Linked DNA regions of Homo sapiens: region 1 is linked to region 2. The links come from fine-mapping of genetic effects on gene expression. A gene starts in region 2. The other region holds a variant in brackets. All regions are shown on one strand. Distances are from middle to middle.

Region 1 (8,421 bases), 28 kb after region 2:
AAAAAGAACTGAAACTCACCAGATCGTTGCATCCAGACAATGAGACACCAGGCCCTTCATTCATCATGATTGCTTCCTTACCCCTCTCAAGTTGAGTTCCTGTTTTCCCATGCATAGTTACATTTCTTCCCTGCTAGATTAACCCCTAATTATAGTCAGTCAGGAGATGAATTTGAGACTAGTTCCCATGTCTTCAGCTGCAGCACCCAATTAAAGCTTTCTTCCTTGGCAATACTCATTGTCTCAGTGATTGGTTTTCTGTGCTATGAGGAGCAGGACTTAGACTGAATACCTGCTATTATGGTAACAAAAGCATGGTCTATGCTGGAGGCATCTGTGGTTTTTGCATGTCTAGCTTCTATTAGAGCACACATGCAGCTTTTCATTTATAACTCACCCTTCTTCAGCCCAGCGCAGTGGCTCATGCCTGTAATCCCAGCACTTTGGGAGGTCAAGTGGGTGCATCACGAGGTCAGGAGATCAAGACCATCCTGGCTAACACGGTGAAACCTCGTCTCTACTAAAAATACAAAAAAATTAGCCAGGCGTGGTGCCAGGCGCCTGTAGTCCCAGCTACTCTGGAGGCTGAGGCAGGAGAATGGCGTGAACCCGGGAGGCAGAGATTGCAGTGAGCCAAGATCGCACCACTGCACTCCAGCCTAGGCAACAGAGTGAGACTCCATCTCAAAAAAAAAAAAAGAAAAAGAAAAAGAAAAAAAAACCTTATCTTTCTTCCATTCCATGAGGTCCTGACGGGATTGTGTTCTGCCCACACATTAGCGGATATGAGATCCAGGCTGCCTCATCTGATGTGGTGATAGGTTCAAAGATGGACACATAACCCAAACCAAGACCTATCAGACGCTTCCAGAGACATGATAGAAAGCTGCTGGAAGAGAGCCACTTCCCTGTAACCCACTACGTGCTTATGTACTGGAGCTGACACCAGGCATCTTCCGCAGTTACACAGAGAAAGTCTAAACATGACAGCATGAGACTAAATATGCTGTGAGAAGCAGTGAAGATGAGAGAAACAGACTGAAAGGGAACCCTGAAGCCAAGTCAGCTCCTAAACTTCTCAGTTCTCTAATTCAAAAGAGTCCCTTGTATGCATAAGCTGATTTGAGTTTCTGTTATTAGAAACCAAAGCCGTTCTGACTAATACAGTTTCAGTCCTCAAATTCATATCTTATGAAATTTGATAGTTATTTACTTAATAAGAGACCATTTAAAAAATATCAGCTAATTCTGAAACATACAAGCTCAGTTTAAGCATCTTATGATGACCTCAGCACCCTAGAAGGCCTGTTTCTAGAGAACACTACTTCTGCTCTCAATAGTGGAGATGGGTGGTTAGCAATAGTTGTGTTGTACCTAAACCTGTTATTCCCACTTGTACTTGCTACTACATGTGTGTACGTATGTGTATGATTTAATTAAATATTATTTAAATGATAAAATATGATGCGGGCCAGCTGCTGTGGCTCAGGCCTATAATCCCAGTACTTGGATAGGCCAAAGTGGGTGGATCACCTGAGGTCAGCAGTTCAAAACCAGCCTGGCCAACATGGTGAAACCCCGTCTCTACCAAAAACACAAAAATTAGTCAGGCATGATCGTATGCACCTGTAAACCCAGCTACTCAGGAGGCTGAGGCAGGAGAATCACTTGAACCTGGGAAGTGGAGGTTGCAGTGAGCTGAGATCATGCTGTGTCCGGAATTGGTTCCTTACGGTGGATTCTTGGTCTCGCTAACTTCAAGAATGAAGCTGCAGACCCTCGTGGTGAGTGTTACAGTTCTTACACGTAGTGTGTCCGGAGTTTGTTCCTTCAGATGTTCAGATATGTCCAGAGTTTCTTCCTTCCGGTGGGCTCGTGGTCTAGCTTGACTTCAGGAGTGAAGCTGCAGACCTTCGCAGTGAGTGTTACAGCTCTTAAATGTGGCGCATCCAGCGTTGTTTGTTCCTCCCGGTGGGTTCGTGGTCTCACTGATTTCAGGAGCAAAGCTGCAGACCTTCGCAGTGAGTGTTACAACTCATAAAGGTAGTGCGGACCCAGAGGGAGCAGCAGCAAGATTTATTGTGAAGAGCAAAAGAACAAACCTTCCACAGCCTGGAAGGGGACCCGAACTGGTTGCTGCTGCTGGCTCCGGTGGCCAGCTTTTATTCCCTTATTTGGCCCTGCCAACGTCCTGCTGATTGGTCCATTTTACAGAGTGCTAATTGGTCCATTTTACAGAGTGCTGATTGGTCCATTTTTACAGAGTGCTGATTGGTGTGTTTACAAACCTTTAGCTAGTCACAGAGCACTGATTGGTGCATTTTTACAGAGTGTTGATTGGTGCATTTACAAACCTTTAGCTAGACACAGAGCGCTGATTGGTGCATATTTAGAGTACTGATTGGTGTGTTTACAAACCTTTAGCTAGACACAGAGTGCTGATTGGTGTGTTTACAATCCTCTAGCTAGACAGAAAAGTTCTCCAAGTTCCCACCCAACCCAGAAGCCCAGCTGGCTTCAATTCTCAATGCCACTGCATTCCAGCCTGGGCTACAGAGTGAGACCCTGCCATAAAAACAAACAAACAAAAACCACACAAATAACATAAAATAAAATATGATGACCCCAACAGAAAGGTGTTTCTAGGCTGGGCACGGTGGCTCATGTCTGTAATCCCAGCACTTTGGGAGGTGGAGGTGGGTGCATCACGAGGTCAGGAGTTTGAGACAAGCCAGGCCAACATGATGAAATCCTGTCTCTACTAAAAATACAAAAATTAGTCAGGTGTGGTGGCATGCACCTGTAATTCCAGCTACTCAGGAAGCTGAAGCAGGAGAATCTTTTGAACCTGGGAGGGAGAGGTTACAGTGAGCTATGATCGCACCATTGCACTCCAGCCTGGGCGACGTAGTGAGACTCTGTCCCAAACAAACAAACAAACAAACAAAAAGGTATTTCTATAAAAATCAAGTTAATTGTTAAAAGACTCATAATGATGTTGCTTTAGAAAAAAAAAATGTTGGCTAGGTAGGGTGGCTCACGCCTGTAATCCCAACACTTTCGGAGGCTGAGGCTGGAGGATCCTGTGAGCCCAGGAGTTTGAGACCAGCCTGGGCAGCATGGCAAGACCCCCTCTCTATGAAAAAATTAAAAATTAGCCAGGCGTGGTGGCACACACCTGTGGTCCTAGCTACTCAGGATCCTGAGGTGGGAGGATCACTTAATCCCACAAGGTCAAGGCTGCAGTGAGCCGTGTTCACACCACTGCACTCCAACCTGGGTAACAGAGCGAGACTCTGTCTCTAAAAAAAATTAATTAATGAAAAATGAAAAATGAAAAAAAATTAAGACAAACTATGGCACCCATATGTCACTTTTTGATGTTTAGCTTTAATCTACTTTTTTGAATTGACATTCTAATTACTGATCCCAGCTGTGTCAGGTAAGAGAGCAACAATCTGTTGACTTCAAAATTATCTTACCTGAACAATAGGAGATATGAACTTACTTAGGGGTTGGAAGATTTATTTTAATTATGACCCCACAGAAAAGATTCAAGACAACAAAACTTTAAGATAAGACTTTCTAATATATTAGGTAACAGAGTAAACTTAAATGAGATATTTGTTTACCTTTATTTTTATTTATTATTATTTATTATTATTTTTTGATGGGGTCTTGCTCTGTCACCCAGGCTGGAGTGCAGCGGCAAGATCTCGGATCACTGCAGCCTCCACCTCCTGGGTTCAAGCAATTCTCCCACCTAAGCTACCTGAGTAGCTGGGATTACAGGGGCACGCCACCACACCTGGCTAATTTTTGTATTTTTAGTAGAGACAGGGTTTCACCATGTTGGGAAGGCTGGTCTTGAACTCTTGACCTCACGTGATCCACCCACCTTGGCCTCCCAAAGTGCTGAGATTACAGG[C/T]GTGAGCCACTGCACCCCGGCCTATTTTTATTTTTTAATATTTATTTATTTTTGAGACAGAGTTATGCTCTTGTTGCCCAAGCTGGAGTGCAATGGCGTGATCTCGGCTCACCGCAACCTCTGCCTCCCGGGTTCAAGCAATTCTCCTGCCTCAGCCTCCCGAGTAGCTGGGATTACAGGCATGCGTCACCACACCCAGCTAATTTTGTATTTTTAGTAGAGACAGGGTTTCTCCATGTTGGTCAGGCTGGTCTTGAACTCCCGACCTCAGATGATCCGCCCGCCTTGGCCTTATTTTTATTTTTTTAGAGACGGAGTCTGACTCTGTCACCCAGGCTAGAGGGCCGTGGTGTGATCATAGCTCACCACAGCCTTGAACTCCTGGGTTACAGTGATCCTCCCGCCTTGTTCTCCCAAAATGCTGGTATTACAGGCATGAACCACCATGCCTGGTTGCAGTCTTACCTGTTTTTTTTCAAAAATGTTCTGACTATTCCATCCTATTGTAGCCTCTTCAGAATTCTCTCTCTCCAGGATTTAAGGCGCTATCAAGGTCTGTCAATCCTGAGATGAGTTATGTGAAAGTATTTAAGAAAGGATAGGGCCGGGAGCGGTGGCTCACGCCTGTAATCCCAGCACTTTGGGAGGCCAAGCCGGGTGGACCACGAGGTCAAGAGATCGAGACCATCCTGACCAACATGGTGAAACCTCGTCTCTACTAAAAATACAAAAACTTAGCCAGGCATGGTGGTGGGCAACTGTAGTCCCAGCTACTCGGGAGGCTGAGGCAGGAGAATCACTTGAAACTGGGAGGTGGAGGTTGCAGTGAGCCGAGATTGTGCCACTGCACTCCAGCCTGGGTGACAGAGCAAGACTCCATCTTAAAAAAAAAAAAATGATAAGGACTAAGGACTATATACATGTAAAAGTATAGTACTTCCTTCTCTTTCTCATTCTGTCTCTCTCTCTCTTTCTCTCTTTCTTTCACAGGATCTTGCTCTGTTGCCCAGGCTGGAGGGCAGTGGTGAGATCATGGCTCACTGCAACCTGGAACTCCTGGGCTCAAGTGATCCTTCTGCCTCCTGCCTCAGCCTCCAGAGTAGCTGGGACTACAGGCTTGCTCCACCACATCTGGCTAATATATACATCTAATATATTATATGTATTATATACATCTAATATATTATATGTATTATATACATCTAATATATTAGATGTATTATATACATCTAATATATGTATTATATACATCTAATATATGTATTATATACATCTAATATATGTATTATATACATCTAATATATGTATTATATACATCTAATATATGTATTATATACATATAATATATGTATTATATACATATAATATATGTATTATATACATATAATATATTATATGAATATATATATAATATATTATATGAATATATAATACATATACTATAGTATATGTATTATATACATATACTATAGTATATGTATTATATATTCATATACTATAGTATATGTATTATATATTCATATACTATAGTATATGTATTATATATTCATATAATATAGTATATGTATTATATATTCATATAATATAGTATATGTATTATATATTCATATAATATAGTATATGTATTATATATTCATATAATATAGTATATGTATTATATATTCATATAATATAGTATATGTATTATATATTCATATAATATAGTATATGTATTATATATTCATATAATATAGTATATGTATTATATATTCATATAATATAGTATATGTATTATATATTCATATAGTATATGTATTATATATTCATATAATACAGTATATGTATTATATATTCATATAATACAGTATATGTATTATATATTCATATAATACAGTATATGTATTATATATTCATATAATACAGTATATGTATTATATATTCATATAATATAGTATATGTATTATATATTTCATATAATATAGTATATGTATTATATATTCATATAATATATATATTATATATTTCATATAATATATATATTATATATTCATATAATATATTATATATATTATATATTTCATATATATATATATTTTTGAGATGGAGTCTTGCTTTGTTGCCCAGGCTGGAGTGCAGTGGTGCCATCTCGGCTCACTGCAACCTCCGCCTCCCGGGTTCAAGCGATTTTTCTGTCTCAGCTTCCCAAGTAGCTGGGATTACAGGTGCACGCCACCACGCCCAGCTAATTTTTGTATTTTTAGTAGAGATGGGGTTCCACCATGTTGGTCAGGCTGGTCTTGAACTCCTGACCTTGTGATCTACCCGCCTCAGCCTCCCAAAGTGCTGGGATTACAGGCGTGAGCCACTGCGCCCGGCCTCTGGCTAATATTTTTAAAACATTTTTTGTAGAGCCAGGTCTTGCTCTGTTGTCCACACTGGTCTCAAGCTCTTGGCTCAAGCGAAACTCCTGCCTTGGCCTCCCATAAATGCAGGAATTACAGATGTGAGCCACTGTGCCCTGCCTTAGTATTTCTTGAGTTGTTATTTAAATGTAAATATTCCCTTGTCTTTAATGCAGCAGAAAATTCCTCAAGAGCCAAAAATACTTTTTAAATTTTTAAAATTTAAAAGTTTTTAAATTGTTTAATTTTAAATTTTAATAAATAAATAAATAAAAATTTAAAAAAATTAAAAATTTTAAAGGGCACTTCATAAATCTCAAACTGCCCTGGTCCTCACAGTCTTTCTAACTTGGCTGAAGATAGCTCTGCTTTTGCTGAGAAAATGTAGATCACTTTCCTCTCTCTCAAAGGATCTGTGGAGTCATCCCTCTCCTCTTACAACCTCTGCTCCCTCTCCTCACATTGTACACTCAGATTTCAAAATCTTGGAGGACGCACCTCCCTCATCCTTCTCGGGGTTAGCTTTATGTTCTCCGAGTGCACCTCCCAAGGGGCAGCCCACTGATTCCAAATTGGAAGTGCTTTCCTTGGTTCTTATGAACCAATGCAGCAGTTTTTTCTTTTCTGTAAGTAAATTTTTATATTGCACTAAGGACTCCTAGTAACTTTCTTCAGGAGTTACTAAGGATAACATGTCTTTGCTATCCAACACCTAGGGTATTAGGCCGGCTGTGGTGGCTCATGCCTGCAATCCCAGCACTTTGGGAGGCCAAGCTGGGAAGATCACTTGAGCCCAGGAGTTCAAGACCAGCCTGGACAACATAGTAAGACCCCGTTTCTAAGACAAAAACAAAAACTAAAACCCTGGGGTATTAGCACTTAAGTTGACAGAGGAATTGATTTGGCATTGTACTGAAAAGTTGAGCTGGCCGGGTGTGGTGGCTCATGCCTGAAATCCTAGCACTTTGGGAGGCCGAGGTGGGCAGATCACTTGAGGTCAGAAGTTCAAGACCAGCCTGACCAACATGGTGAAACCCTGTCTCTACTAAAAATACAAAAATTAGCCGGGTGTGGTGGCGGGCGCCTGGAATCCCAGCTACTCGGGAGGCTGAGGCAGGAGAATTGCTTGAACCTAGGAGGTGGAGGTTACAGTGAGCTGAGATCATGCCACTGCACTCCAGTCTGGGCAACAGAGTGAGACACCGTCTCAAAAAAAGGAAAGAAAAGTTGAAAAGTTGAATTGCTGGTAACTATGTGAAGCTCCCACTATGCAAATACCTACATCCTTGGGATTCCTCAATTTTCTAGTTAGATAGGTATGTTATCAGTACTTTATGTGTTGACTCAGACAGCTCGTTAGGTATTAGCTTGGCTTAGTCTTTCCTTTAAAATGTCAATTATTAGTTTAGCTTCATTATTATCAATTTGGTGTTTCCTTTAGCCAACTGTATAATTTTTGTGATGCTCATTTGCATGAGCATTTTTTTTTTGACACGGAGTCTCGCTCTGTTGCCCAGTCTGGAGTACAATAGCATGATCTCGGCTCACTGCAACCTCCGCCTCCCAGGTTTAAGCGATTCTCCCGCCTCAGCCTCCTGAGTAGCTGGGATTACAGGTGCGTGCCACCACGCCCAGTTAATTTTTGTATTTTTATAGAGATGGGGTTTCTCCATGTTGGTCAGGCTGGTCTCAAACTCCTGACCTCAGGTGATCCACCTGCCTCGGCTTCCAAAGTGCTGGGATTATAGGCGTGAGCATCAGGCCCAGCCAAGTAGGCTTTCTAGGCCATAATTTTCAAGGAATTCGACTTCAAGATGTGTTAGTTTGTTATTCTTTTTTTTTTTTTTTTTGAGACGGACTCTTGCTCTGTCTCCCAGACTGGAGTTCAGTGATGTGATCTCAGCTCACTGCAACCTCTGCCTCCTGGGTTCAAGAGATTCTCCTTCCTCAGCCTCCTGAGTAGCTAGAATGACAGGCGCCCACCACCAGGCTGGTCTCGAACTCCTGACCTCAGGTGGTCGGCCCGCCTCGGCCTCCCAAAATGTTGGGATTACGGGTGTAAGCCACCACGCCCAGCCGGTTTGATATTCTAATAGGATTCTTCTATATCCA
Region 2 (8,217 bases):
TGAGAATGAAGAGGCCACTTATCACCTACAGGAACTTATGTCAGGAGAGTGACAAGGACAGAAGTCAGACAGCTAAATTAGAGTCGGGGGCAAAAGGGAAGCAGCAGATAGATCCTTGTCAAATATGTTAATCTGAAAACCAGCATCTTGGGCTAATGATAAAATATAAAGTGTTCTCCCCTTGACAATGTTTACTGACCAAAAGCTGTCTTAATGGAAAACTAAGCTAAGATGAAAAAAACAGGCTGAGGCTGGGCAAGGTGGCTCACACTTGTAATCCCAGTACTTTGGGAAGCCAAGGCAGAGGGATTGTTTGAGCCCAGAACTTCAAGATCAGGCTGGGCAACAGAGTAAGACTCCGTTATCTATCTTAAAAAAAAAAAAAAAAAAAAAGTATAAAAAAAGAAAAAATAGTCTGAAAATGCTTTGGCCTCAAATTATTCTTTAAAGAAAACTGTCAATAAGTGAAAAATAAACTTTATTGTATTTAAGAGAAGTCTGTTCCTTTTAGAGCACATGCAGTAACTGTCAATTTGCCTTTAAAAAGTTTAAGTTGTGGCCGGGCGCGGTGGCTCACGCCTGTAATCCCAGCACTTTGGGGGGCCGAGACGGGAGGATCACGAGGTCAGGAGATCGAGACCATCCCCGCTAACACAGTGAAACCCCGCCTCTATTAAAAATACAAAAAATTAGCTGGGCATGGTGGCAGGCGCCTGTAGTCCCAACTACTCGGGAGGCCGAGGCAGGAGAATGGTGTGAACCCGGGAGGCGGAGCTTGCAGTAAGCCAAGATCGTGCCACTGCACTCCAGCCTGGGAGACAGCGAGACTCTGTCTCAAAAAAAAAAAAAAAAGTTTAAGTTGTGCCTTATATTAAATGATTTAGACTACAGGCACATCATTAGTAAATTGTCTAAAAATTTGAAGTTAGGCAGATTTTGTAATAGACTCTGTGTCAGAAATTGTATTTTTAATAAATCTTCCAGGTGATTTTTAAACACATCACATATTTTGAGAATTGCTGTCTACAATAAAGGTGTCAATCCAAAAAGGACATTGATCTTGCAATTTCCTGTCTAGAAAGCCCAGATCTTTTACACAACAGACACCTGCTGTTCAGGTCTCAGCTCAGACGTCACCTTCTGGGAGATGCCCTCCCTGTCCCTCACTCCATCACACAAAACTTGTTTTTTTTTTCAGAGCAAACTCCCCTCTGCCCTCATACCTAAAATATAGGTATCATCTCCACCGCATCTGGAATGCCCATATCCCAGACATCAAATGTCTATTTTGACCATCATTTATATCCCTGGTCGCTGGAACTAGCCCTGGCACAAAGTGATTGTCAATGAGTACTCAATTAATAAAACCAACAGTCAATTATTAGAGTTGGGATTTCAATCCAGCAGTGAATGCCTTGAAGTTCTTCACACAACACTCAATAAACGTTATTTTTTCCAACTTCAGTTTGTCAAATGTAATTAAGTGCGTAGAGTCTAAGAGAAAGGGAGAAAAAGAAGACAGAACAGTCTGAGAATCACCTGTGAGCCTGTTAGAAAGGCAGAATCCCAGGCCCCACTCCTGACCTCCCAATCAGAATCTGTGTTTTAATAGGATCCCTAAGTGATTCATACCACAGCCAAGACTGGAATCACTGGGTTACGGAACAGCGGCAAGCCTAGGGGTTAAAACAAAAAGCCTAACATAAATCTGCATGGTCTGTTTACTCTCTTATTTCCATAAATAGTAATTTGATGAAAAAGATCCATTAATATTCCAATCAAATAAGCCTTAAAATGCAACTGAAGAAAACTTCCTTCTGGGAGGTTCCTAGGAAGATGAAAGATATTACATCAGATCATTTATGTGGTTAAAAGTAATATACTATTTTGAAAAGGTAGTAATTCCAACACTACCTTTAGAAGAAAACAAGAATTTTACCTTGATATCAAGCAAAATGCGGGAAATCTTGTATCAGGCTACAGTTACTAGTCAATGGTAGAAAAGTCCAGAAAAATTCCCCAAATCTGGTTCTGGAATATCAAGGACCGCTGCTTCTGATACTCCTTCCCATATTAGCTGAAGCAGTTTGCAAGCAAGCCCACCTGCAACGTTTCCCCCACGGCATTTGCCCACTTTTAAAATGGAGTTCTACTAAGGCCTGCCTTTTAGAGTTGTTGGGATAATTAAATGAGAAAATACAGAATGCTTTTACCACAGTGCCTCACGTGCAGGAGGCACTGCTGCCCACTATTTCCCGAAATGGCCTGGAAACTGCCAAAAGGTGGAGAATCATGTCTTACCGATCTCCCTATCCTCTGCTCCGTCACCTAACAAAGGAGGCCCCTAATAACTAAATAAATTGCAAAACGACCAAAAAAAAAGTGTTGCTTTGTTTGAGGAAATATCTCTGCCTCCCACACACACTTAAGATGTCTATTTTAAAGCACCACTAAGAAAATATTCATAAAGGCTGGGTGTGGTGGCTTACGCCTGTAATCCCAGCACTTTGGGAGGCCAAGGCGGGCGAATCACCTGAGGTCAGGAGTTCGAGACCAGCCTGACCAAATGGCAAAACCCTGTCTCTACTAAAAATACAAAAATTAGCTGTGCATACTAGTGGGTGCCTGTAATCCCAGCTATTCGGGAGGCTGAGCAGGAGAATCGCTTGAACCCGGGAGGCAGAGGTTGCAGTGAGCCCAGATGATGCCACTGCACTGGGGGACAGAGCCAGACTCCGTCTCGGAAAAACACACACACACACACACACAAGCACCTCATATGTACAGTGCAAAAGAACTACTGTTACTATTGTTACACTTGGGAACGCCTAGTTTTCTATCACACCAAGAATCACCAAAAAACACCATAAGTGCCTTCATGGGAAACGTTTCTCTTTTCCAGGTATCCCAATAATACACCTGTTGCCTAAGGGCCACACACTGACTGGCCTGGAAAGCCGCCGCCTCCTCCTCGAGCAGGGTAATTCCCCAAGCGGGCAGTGTGGCCAGCGAGCCCCGGGTCCGGCCTAAGGATGCCGCGGCTTTTCCCTCGGGCCCGGTGGCTTCCCGAGGAGCGCGAGGGGCTCGGCGCCGCTCCCAACCCCTAGGCGCAGAGGCCATCTTGGCCCTCGACCCCTGCTCCCCGCACGCTTCCTCCGACGCAGGCAACATGGCTGGCGCGCGGGGCCGGCCCAGTCCCGGAGGTCCCCAAACTCCGTGGCCCGGCTGGGCGCGGGTCCCGGCTTCCGTGCGCACCGAGGCGCTCCCAGGCAGCGCGCGCCCACGTTCGCCGGGCAGGCACCGCCCGGAGGCAGTTCCGCCCCCCTGGGGGCAGCCCTTTTGGTCACGGATGAGAATCCGAAGCGTGAGCAGCTTCCCTCGAAGTCCAGCCTCACTCGAAATTAACTCCCCGCCCCCCAGCTTAAATCGACGCGGGTTCACACAACTCGCAACAAGTGGATTCGAAGTAGCCAGTGTGGCCCACACCGTGACTCCTGGAATATTTCACAGATTGAATCCAGCCCCCGTCTCCCCGGGATATCCAAAGGGGTGGGGTGGGAGCGGAAGGAATGAAATTCCCCCCGGGATCTAAGCCGCCCGGGCCGCCGAACAGCCGCCTCGCTGCAGCCTCAGGCTTAGGACCCCCAAGGAGCTGGGCGCAGGATCCCTCTCCATGAAGGCCGCCCCCCCAAACTGCAGCCCCAGAGCGGATGCAGGATCGTCGCTGTTCAGGAATGTCGTGCCCCATAAAAGTGAAAAGTTGCCCGCGCCGCTGAGGCACTGCTAGCTTTCAGCGTTTCCGCGGAATAAAGCTTGATCGGCGGCTCCAAGCCACCCCTCGCCCCAGGAGGCAGCCTCCCAAGTTGGCCGGTGCTGCTCTCTCCGCAGACCCGCGCCTCTCTGGTTCCCACGAGTCCCAGCTCGGGGACGAAACTGCCACCGAAACCAGCGCGGAGCGTCCTCCCCCCGGCACCTCCCCTAACATAGTCGCCGCGGTCCCCCCACGGGGACCCTCGGGCTCCCGTGCGCCCCTGACGCCGCGCCCAACACTCACCCGCTCGCCGCAACTGGGCCCGACCCTCCGGGGGCCAACGGTGCCAGGGAGCGCGCTCACCTGGCGGGCGCACCTGACGCCGCACCGACCGCCAGCGCTCAGCCGGGGACTGGGCTGGGGACGTCTCCTCCCCCTTCTCCCTCTCCTTTCCCTCCTCCCTACAACCGGCCCTGCCCCCGGGCATGCGCACCAACGTGGAAGGGGGTGCGGGAAGCCTGCGGGCCAGCGCCGCGAGTCCCACCTGCTGCGTCCTAGACCGGCTCCTCGGCGCTCTGGACCTGGCTCTCGGTTCCTGCCGCCTCCGCCAGAGGAAGCAGGGAGGGAGAGGTGGACGCGGGAGTGTAGGTGTGGTGTGTCGGCCTCCTCCCTCGGTGACCAATTCACCTGAAACTCGGATGGGAGGGGGCGGGAGGACGCGGTCCTGCTTCCCACACCCTGCCAGCGCGCTGTTAAAGGAACCGCGCGACGTTGCGGCCCGAGAGGCGGGGCGCAGAGGAGAGGCGCGGGCTCCTAGGGGGCAGCACGGATGGGGGTCCCTGACCACCCCGGGGTGCGTTCGGTGCTCCGCCTGCTTCGGATGGAACCTTGGGGTGTCTGATGGAGAGAGGCCGAACGAGGTCCAGAGGGGACTGTTTCCTCCGGAAAGAGGGTCCAGGCACTCAGCACTTTGATAGGAAAGGCACGTCCTCACAGGACACTTTTCTGCTTCCAGAATTTGATTAAACTGTTGCTGGAAAAAGGCATCTAGATGTATTGCTCCAACGAAAGACTCCTGGGAAAATTTCAAAAGTCGTGTGTAAACATTGGCGCTGTTTCTGAATCTCTAGATTCAGAATAAGAGACAATTACTTAGAGGGGTTAAAATGAGGGTGAACTACTGTAGGTGTTAGTTGCCATCCAGCAGGCTAAAGTGCATAATACAGTTTACACATCACCACCCCAGGGTCCTCTCCTGCCCACCCGGTCCGCTCTTGAGGACCGGGAAATTTAAACTATTATGGCTCTTTGGCCTGAGAAAAAGCACCTTATACGTTGTTTACCAACCTGTAGTGCTTTAAGAACAACACTACTTAAAAAGCAAAATAAACTTGGTTTACTTTTTTTTTTTTTTTAAGAAAACGAAAAAGCACCTTAGTTCCGGGTGCTGTATTCTATTTCTTGATCTGGATTCTGTTTCCAAGGGAAATTTCATAGTCTGCACTTAACACTGTGTATATTTTTATGTATGTTGGTTGTTTTTCAACATATTTTTTAATTGTACTCCAGGATGTGGCAATTATAGTTCTTGGCATTTAACTATCTGCATTGAAAGCGAACTTTTAGGTTTCTTACATCCTGCTTGTCTTTGTGTTCCAATCTGGAATGTCAGCATTGCTAATAAATTTCTATCCAATCCCACCCACTTCTCTACCTTTAATTAAATGGTTAGAGATGTGACTCTCCCATACATTAGATCTTAAGGCACAATTCATACTTGAGGAAGTAAAAGCACTATATAAATATGAGGTATTTCAGATGATGGCAGCTTTAATGGGTAATTAATTTAATTGGTATTTTTTTCGTGGAAGTCATTGCTACAAATGCTTTAATATGACTATGTAGTTTTTGAATGATGCAGTTTAAATTGGTATTGTTAACACTGGGGAAGTCAGGTTAATCCCCTTAATGTTCCCTGTCAGATTACTGAAATCTCCAAACATTCCATTTGGTTTATAATTAAACAAGGGAACATTTCCTAATACTCTCAGATTTGTAAACACATGTCTATTATTTTATAATGTATTTTGACATGTTCTGAAGAGATCTTAGGAGTTTTTTTCCACTTTATAAAAGAGAGTTCACATACCATAAAATTCACCCTTTTAAAGGGCACGTACAATTCAGTGGGTTTTAGTATACTCACCAGATTGTACAACCATCACCACCATCTAATTCCATTTTAATCGCCCCCAAAAGAAACCCCATGCCCATTAATAGTCACTCCCCATTTCCCCTCTCCCCTCATCCCTCGGCAACCACTAATGTACTTTCTGTCTCTATTAATTTGCCTATTCTGGACATTTTATATGAATGGATAATACAATATGTGCCCTTTGTGTCTGTCTTCTTTCACTTAGCATAATATTTTAAAGGTTCATCCATGATGTAGTATGTATTGGTACTTCATTCCTTTTTATAACTGAATAATATTCCATTGTATCGATGTATCACATTTCGTTTAATCATTCATCTGTTGATGAACATTTGGGTTGTTTCTCCTTTGGGGATGTTATGAATAATGTTACTATGAACATTTGTGTACAAGTTTTTGTGTGGACATATGTTTTCGGTTCTCTTGGTAAATTAGGTTTTTAAATTAAACTTTTTATCATTTTAAGATAACTTATGCATATCATGTTATTTTTCTTATTCCCACCCTAAACCTAAACTCAAAGACATGTTGTGTTGGGTAGAAGGCTTTCATATTCTATTTGCTTTCCCAATTCATTCCTTCAACTATTTTCTGAGTGCCTAATCTGTACACACACGAGTGAACAAAACTCAAAAATCTCTGTGAAACTTACTTTCTAGTTAGTTCTGAGTTCATCCATATGGAATAATAGGATTCATTAATTGTATGAATTCTATTTTATTCGCTTGAGATTAATTTTCTAAACAACAACATCAAAAGAACGGTTAACTATTGTCCAATATTGTGTATATTTCATAGTTGAAAGTGTCTAGAAAGAAAATCCAGCCTTAAAACTTAAACACATCATTCTTCAATACCAAAACAAAATTTGTTGGATGTTAAATGATGCCATGCTCAATTTAATCATGTTACATAATCATAAATTATAGCAAAATTTAATTACTATATTTTTTACCAAATATTCCTTCTTGGCAACTCACAGTAGTATTGAGTAGTATCCACTATTGAATATTATTTGATGAAAATCCCCGTGACTCAGAGCAATGTAAATATTATTTTCAGAACCCCATGATTAGAAACTTGTTGACTTTACCTGCAGTCAAATGGATAAGATGAAAAGACAATTTGTTTCTCCTTTTCTATGTGTAAAAGAGAAACTTAAGAGCTCAGATTATGGTGTCAGAAATCTCAGTTCAAATTCCAGTGTTGCTACTTGGTAGCTGGGTAGGACTAAAGGAAATTAAACTATGTAAGGTTCATTTTTTTCCACCGTAAATTTGAGATGATAATAAACAATACTGTCTTTATAAGTCTGTTGGTGGGAATGTGGAGCATTCACCAAGACAGACTATATGCTGAGCCACGAAACAAGTCTCAATAAATTGAGCAAGCCATTGCTGTATCCTATATGCCTGAAATAGTTCCTGTCACATAGGAATTACATAACTATGTGTTGGATGAATGAATGAATGACTATAGCCCTGCTTCCCAAATCCAACATGCCTGTGGAGTCTTGTCCTCCTCTCAGATGGCCTCCTGCTATTGTGAAACCCGCACGTTCCTTAGTAGCATTTCAAGGCTTACATCTCTAGTACTAGGGTTTAGAGGAGAAAAGACGGGAGATTAACATAGTTCCACTGTTTCCACTCTGCCTTGCCTGCTTAGTAAATGAATTCAAAGACTGGTATGTGTCCAAGGCAACTCAGTTTGGAGTTGCTGAGGGCCTGGCCTGAAAGGCCTCTAGTTTCTCTGCCCAGTCATGAGGAGGGGGAGGCTTCTGGTCCACACAGGACAGTTTCCTTGGACAGGTGTATGGAAGAATTTATGGGGAAGCCACTAGGAAGACAATTTCTAAAAGGATGATTACACTAGATGAGTAAACCTTTATCTTCTCTATTCCTATGTGTTAAGCAAGATCCTCCTGGGAGGAATCCATATTTAAACAAAGAGACTCAGCACCTGAACAGGAACTTCAACAGGTGGAAGAATAATAATAGCACCATTTACTCAGGGAAAAACATGTTCTAAGTACTATGCTAAGTGTTTTTTTGGTTTTCTGTTTGTTTGTTTTGAAACAGAGTCTCCTCCGTAGCCCAGGCTGGAGTGCAATGGTGTGATCAGCTCTCTGCAACCTCCGCCTCCTGGGTTCAAATGATTCTCCTATGTCAGCCTCCTGAATAGTTGGGACTACAGGCACCTGCCACCACGCCTGGCTAATTTTTGTATTTTCAGTAGAGATGGGATTTCACCT

Evidence for each region.
Region 1: its variant is fine-mapped to the expression of OCLN in whole blood (TOPMed, PIP 0.93).

What each region holds. Positions count from the first base shown.
Region 1 is chr5:69,460,500-69,468,920 of GRCh38, reverse strand. No RefSeq gene overlaps it. Among named protein-coding and RNA genes, the nearest start is that of OCLN, 28 kb to the left of the region's middle. RefSeq lists a silencer at 6,173-6,341. The variant C/T (reference allele first, on the strand shown) is at 3,929.
Region 2 is chr5:69,488,738-69,496,954 of GRCh38, reverse strand. It overlaps OCLN (occludin), which reads right to left and starts at 4,165. Exons shown (of 9, transcript NM_001205254.2): 1 at 4,055-4,165.